2 linked regions of the Homo sapiens genome follow. The protein of the gene in region 1 interacts with the protein of each later gene in a pairwise test. Each region holds a gene or a part of one and is shown on either strand. Other genes may lie near its edges.

The links. The genes of interacting proteins can lie anywhere in the genome.
Region 2: the proteins of C1GALT1 (region 1) and LEPROT interact in a two-hybrid assay, tested with the Homo sapiens proteins (one large-scale study listed by BioGRID).

The regions. Positions count from the first base shown.
Region 1 is NC_000007.14:7,189,044-7,192,543, reverse strand, and holds part of C1GALT1 (glycoprotein-N-acetylgalactosamine 3-beta-galactosyltransferase 1), read right to left. Parts: intron 1-3,500. UniProt on the Homo sapiens protein: Glycosyltransferase that generates the core 1 O-glycan Gal-beta1-3GalNAc-alpha1-Ser/Thr (T antigen), which is a precursor for many extended O-glycans in glycoproteins.
Region 2 is NC_000001.11:65,423,668-65,427,167, reverse strand, and holds part of LEPROT (leptin receptor gene-related protein), read right to left. Parts: intron 1,866-3,500; coding exon 1,790-1,865; intron 1-1,789. UniProt on the Homo sapiens protein: Negatively regulates leptin receptor (LEPR) cell surface expression, and thus decreases response to leptin. Negatively regulates growth hormone (GH) receptor cell surface expression in liver.

The sequences.
Region 1 (3,500 bases):
TAAAGAAAATGTGGTATGTATAATATACACACACACACACCACGGAATACTACTCAGCCATAAAAAATAATGAAATAATGGCATTCACAGCAACCTGGATGGAGGTGGAGACCATTATTCTAAGTAAAGTAACTCAGGAATGGAAAACCAAACATTGTAAGTTGTCACTCATAAATGGGAACTAAGCTATGAGGATGCAAAGGCATAGAATGATACAATGGACTTTGGGAACTTGAAGTAAAGGGTGGGAGGGGGTGAGGGATAAATGACTACACATTGGGTACTGTGTACACTGCTTGGGTGAGGGGTGCACCCAAATCTCAAAAATCATTACCAAAAAACATATCCATGTAACCCAACACCACCTGTTCCCCAAAAGCCTATTGAAATAAAAAAAAAAGAAGAAAAAGTAACTCAAAATGGATCAAAGACCTAAATATAAGACCTAAAACTATAAAATTCTTAGAACATTGAACAAAAGAGCTTCATGACATTATATTTGGCAATGATTTCTTGGATGTGACAACAAAGGCAGAGTCACTGAAAGAAAATATTGGCAAATTAGATTTGATGAAAAATTTTTAAATTTGTGCACCAGAAGACCCTATCAACAGTAAAAGGCAAGCCACAGAATGGGTGAAAATACAGGCAAATCGTATTATCTGATAAGAGATTAGTATCCAAAATATATAGAAAATTCCTAAAACTCAAACAAAAAAAATCAACCTGATTCAACAATGTGCAAAAGACTCAAATACACATTTCTCCTAAGATACACAAATGGCCAATAAACAGATGAAAAGATACTCAACATCTCTAATCATTAGCAAAACAAATCAAGACTACAATGAGATGCTACCTTATACCCATAACAATGGTTACCATCAAAATTCAGAAAATTGTTAAGTGTTGAAGAGAATGTGGAGAAACTGGAACCCTTGTATACTATTGGTATGAAAGTAAAATGTTATTTCTGCTATGGAAAACAGTATGAAAATTCCTCAAAAAATTAAAAATAGAATTACCATATGATCCAGCAATTCCACTTCTGGATATATACCCAATGAGAGCAGGGTTTCAAGAAAGTATTTGTACACTCATGGTCATTGCAGCAGTATTCACAAGAGCTAAAATGTGAAGCAAACCACGTGTTCACTGAGGATGAATGAACAAGCAAAATGTATTTACATACAATGGAATAGTATTCAGCCTTGAAAAGTAAGGAAATTCTGATATATGCTACAAAATGAATGAATCTTGAGGACATTTTGCTAAATGAAATAAGCCAATCACAAAAGGACAAATAATGCACAATTCCACCTACATGAAGTACTTTAAAGTAGTGAAAAATCAGAGACAGAGTAGGCTTTTGGTTTCCAGGGCCTGTGGAAAGGTGAGAATGGAGAGCTATCGTTTAAACGGATATAGAGCTTCAGTTTTACAAAATAAAGAGTTCTGGAGATAAACAGCGGTGATGGTTGCACAACAATATAAATGTAGTTAATACCACTGATCTATAAACTTAAAAATGATTATGATGGTAAACTTTGTATGTATTTTACCAAAATTTTAAAAAGTTTGGAAAAAAAAAGGTATCAATGATAATGATGTTGATTTCCTCCGAATTAACCTGTATGTAAAGTAATCCCAGCTAAAACACAGGAAGATTTTAAAAAATTATATAACTTGGCAAAAAGTATTCTAAAACTTTGGACCAATAAACATGTGGGTGTAACTGGGAAATTCTGGAAAGGGGCATTGTGGGAAGGGGTGTACTAATCTGATCTGATCAATTTTAAGTTATAAAAAAGATTTTAAAAAATTAATGTGGCAAAAATTATTCTAAATGTTATCTGGAAAAATAGGTGAGTATCACTGGAAAACTCTTGAAAGGGGAACTGGGGAAGGGGAAGAGACAAAGTTTACTACATATAAAAATATATTACCTTAAAAAAGGTAATGAAAACAATTTGGTATTTATGCTGAACAAACTCTCAGTCTGTTTAAAAAAATGCATTTGTTAATACTAAAGACAATGTGCTGAGAAACTGTTCTCTACATCAGACTGTCAGAAACTATGTTATTTGAAATTTTATAAAGTGAGAATGGAACATCCCACTCTCGCACTGATGGTAGATCATTATGAAACAGAAGCAACCTCACTTTGCAACTCAGAGCTTCAGATAAGGGGTTTCCAGACACAACATTCCACATGTATCGCGATTTTGTAGTCTCCAGGGAATCAGAATCCTGAGTCAGCTTCTCAGCCCAGGCCTGATGTTTATTAACCCTTGACACACAGTCTTGCCGTGCTTTAAGCTTATCAAATATTGTTGCGTTTAAACTTTATCCAAACTCCACCATTCTCCAAAATCCTATAATAACCCTGGTTCCTTCTTTAGAAATGCTGACATTTCCTCTGCTGTGCAAGTCTCCTTCACTGCAGCAAGCTAATTAACCTTTGTCAGCCTACAGATGTGTCCCTGGTGGTCTCTACCAGATGAATCTTATAAAGGGACTTCATCAGGTTGAAATAAAGACTCTATGGAAAACAAAAATTCATGTGGAAATTTAATACATAATAAACAGCATTTCAAATCAAGAAAAAGGTGGCTTATTGAAGAAATGGTATTGAATTAATTAATCTTTTGGGGAAAAAAAAACAAAACCAGCTGGATCCTTACTTTCTAGTAACAATTTCAAATGTTTCTAAGATTTCAGTATTTTAGAAAATGGAATTAAAACAAAACTGGAAGAAAATATATTTTTGCATTTTGATATTACGAATTGAGATCTCTCCCACACTCAGAAGCTGTGACTATTAAAACACTATGAGTTTATTCATTGGATAAACTTCTGGCAATGAAGTCGCTGGTTAAAGGGCATATTTCTTTATGAAATATATTTTTTTAATGTACAGCAAAAAGAACCAAAAAGTATCATAAATAATAAAAAAGATAGTTAACCAAATACAAAAACAGATAAAGAAAATAAAAGATTCACAGTAAAAAATGGTCAACGATGTTCAAATTTCACTCACAAAGGTAAATCAAATGAAGAGATATTATTTTTAACCTAACATATTGGCAAAACTTTTAAAGTTTATTAACAGCTGTTATTGACACAGATACAAGAAAACTGGTAGTCCTGTATTCTTTCTCATAATACATACTTTTACTGTCTTTTGGAAGGGCATTTCACAACATCTTTTTAAATTTTTAACTAATTATGCCTTGATATATCACTTCATGATCAGAAACTTATTTTACAGATATAATCATAGAAGTCAGCCAAGATGCTCGACAGCCATAACCATAAGACGTCTGTCTGTTGATGAGGAACCAGTTTTTTAAAAAAAAGATAGAGCCATAGCATAGAATAGTAGTAGCTGTTAAAAACAATGATCTACATGTGCTGATAGGGAAAATCTTTGTGCTTTTGACAAAGGTTACTTTTTATTGTTAATAAGGTATACTGGGTATTTTTTTAAACATCAGAAA
Region 2 (3,500 bases), on another chromosome or scaffold:
GAAGGCTCTAAACAAATATAAGTGACCGCTTATATCTGGATCCCTCTTGGGTTTAAACAATTTCTGTAATAGTTGGCCAGGACTGCGGTGATGGATTTGAATTCATCACTGTCATAATAACTCACTTCAATAGGTCTTAACCACATCATCATCATCTTTTTTTTTTTTTTGGAGACAAAGTCTTGCTCTGTCGCCAGGCTAGAGTGCAGTGGCACGATCTTGGCTCACTACAACCTCCACCTCCTGTGTTCAAGCAATTCTCCTGCCTCAGCCTCCTAAGTAGCTGGGAATACAGGCGTGTGCCACCACGCCCAGCTAATTTTTTGTATTTTTAGTAGAGATGGGGTTTCACCATGTTGCCTAGGATGGTCTCGATCTCTTGACCTCGTGATCTGCCCGCCTCAGCCTCCCAAAGTGCTGGGATTACAGGCGTGAGCCATGGTGCCTGGCCTAATCACATCATCTTCTATCTAGTTGTTCAAGCCAATCACCTGGGAGACATCTAAGAACTCTCCCTCCTTGTTGAATCCTGACATCGATGAACAAAACCTGTTGGTTGGTTTGGTTTCCTAACTCACTCTCCTTTTCTTTCCATTCCTACTGCCCCAGCCCTCAATTTTGCTTGATTTATGATAGTAGTCCCCTACTATTCTCCCTGACTGCAGTCTCAGCTCTTTCCTATCTAGTCTCACGTTATGGCAAGAATGACATTTTAACATAACCCCCTCCTCCAAACCCATTCTCAAGATATTTTCCCAGGTTCTATTGTCTGATGTATAAAATGGAACCTCCTCTACACGGCAGGCATATAGAGCCCTAAGTGCTGACTTTTACACTCTTGACTAACCCTTCTTTTGCCACTCCACTACAATTTATGCTGTACCATAATGTACCATGTGTGGTTTCCTGAAAAGGCTATATACACTTTCATGTCTCCGGGCCTTAGCATTCAGCTTTCCTGGTGCCTAAAGTGCTTTTTCCCTAGAGATCTGTATGGCCTGCTTGCTGATTTTCTTGACATTTCTTCTCACTTTTTACCTCCTCTGAGAGGCCCTCCCTGACCACTGTCTTCCCAGCTTCTGTGCTCTTCATCTTTTGTACCATTTCTACCTCTGACAGTATGCATACTTTTGTTGTTTACTGTCCGTCTCCCCCACTGAAACACAAACTCTGAGAGAGCAGGACCTTTGTTTTCTTATGTCTTAATCCCTAGTTCCCATAACAGTAGCTGGCACATGGGAAGCATTCAACCAACAATGGTTGAATGAAAAAATGTGTAGAATGTTCCCTCTGCCTGGAATGTCCTCCCCTGACTCATCACCCTGAAAAACTCTTATTCATCCACCTAGTCTTGGCTCAGATACAACCTCTGCCATGCAGCCTTCCCTGACTGTCCCACTGAAACTCAGGTGCACTTTATCCGAGCTCCAGCGTACTGTGCTGGCATCTCCACTGCAGCTGCCAGATTACTGACTAGACCGTTTGCCTGTCTCTCACTCACAACTAGAACTTTACCTCCTCTTTGAGGACAGGACTCTCTCTTCATTTGTGTGTCCCCAGCTAGTCCAGAGTAGGTGTTAAACAAATGCTTATGGAATGAATACATCAATTTTTAACAGAGCCCTCTGCAAAAGTACACCTGACCCACAAAGGGACTGTGTTCATAAACTGGGCTCCACTAACTCACTGGTTAGAACTTGGTGCTAAATTGACCGAACTCTCTAACACCCATACTAATAGTGACAAAGACACAGAAAGAGGAATAGTTCTTTTTGAAATGATAACTTACCCATAATCCTCTAAGGCACATCCCAGCATAAGAAAAGTCAGTCCAATAGCCCCACTGAAGGATAATGCCACGAGAGCTGTGAAAAATAAAGCCAAAAGTTAAAGTTCCCACAGTAGAGGTTGTCAGGCACTAGAGGGTTTGGGGAAATGGGGAGTGACTTCTAATAGGTCCAGAGTTTCTTTGGCGGATGAGTAAATTTTCTGGAATTAGATAGTAGTGATGGCTGCATAACCTTCTGAATATACTAAAAACCATGAAATCTTACACTTTAAGAATGTTAATTTTATGGTATGTGAATCATTTATCAATAAAAACATTTACTAAAATAAAAAAGAAAGAAAAAAAGGTCCCAAATTCAAGCAAATGTAGCAATTTACTCATTTTATTGAGGTTACATTTGACCCGTTACAGACTGCATTATGTGTGTCCCTTTCAAATTCACATGTTGAAACCTTCCCGGCTCCATCCCTCTCACCGTGAGATGCTATCAGGAGGTGGACCTTTGGGAGATAATTAGGTTCAGATGAGGTCATGAGGGTGGGGTCTCCACGATGGGATGAGTGCCCTTATAAGAAGAGAGAAAGTAGAGCACACACTCTCTCTGTGTTTCTCTCCCTCTGTTCTCCAATGTGAGAGCAGAAAGCAGGCCTGCAAACCAGGAAGCTGGCTCTCACCAGACACCAGATCTGACTGCACCACAATTTTGGACTTCCCAGTCTTCAGAACTGTGGAAACTAAATGTTTGTTGTTTAAGCCACCCAGTCTAAAATATATTTCTTATAGTAGCCCAAACTGATTAAGACAATGACCCATGTCTGCCACCTTGAAATCATAAAGTATACAAAGGTCTCAAGTAATTCCAGTACCTAACCCCTATCCAATGGATGAATTCCCTCTGTATTTGTCACCAGAGGGCAGCCAGTTGGTCCACATAACTCCAGTGAAGGAAAACTCACTACCTCCCAAGGCAAGTCATTTAATTCCAACAGCTTCTAAATGTTGAAAGCCCTCCTTCTTTAAATTATATCCAGAACTGCCTCCCTGTAATATATACCTTTGATCATTTTGCCTCCCCAAACCACAGTACTGCAAGTATTTGAAGATTGTTTTCATGTCTTTGTAGGAAACAATTCCCAACTAGTGTGCACTGAATAAAATATGTATTCCCTGTATCTATTGGACACTAGTCTCTGCGGGAGTAGGAACGTATTTGCCCTTGTTGTGCTGCTGAGTGAGAAACAGAGTATCAAGGTTGTTACAAAATCTTGAGCTCTGAGTCACAAACATGAGTCAAATCTTAACTCTGCCACCATCTGGTCTTATGACTTTGGGTAGAAGCTAATCCTCTGAACCTGATTTCTCACCTGTAAAATGGAAATAATGGTGCCACCTTATTGAGCTTATGGGAATTAAATGAGATAATCTATGTAAAGTGCTTGGCAAAAGGAGGTAGCCAAATAAATGCTGACTGACTCAGGTATCTACTCATTTTAGCAATGTTCTTTGATAAAGGTAGAAATCAAAAGCATAGGAGACTATCTTATCCAAATTTTCTTCTGAAAAAAGTCCATAATACTCATAATTAGTATTAAACTAATTAATTAAGCCAATGAACATTTTTGATTGCTTCCTTTTACTTGAGAGAAGATTTAGAGAGACTCTTTAATAGGAAGGTGCCAAAGTGCTTTTTAAAAAACATCTGAAAGTATAC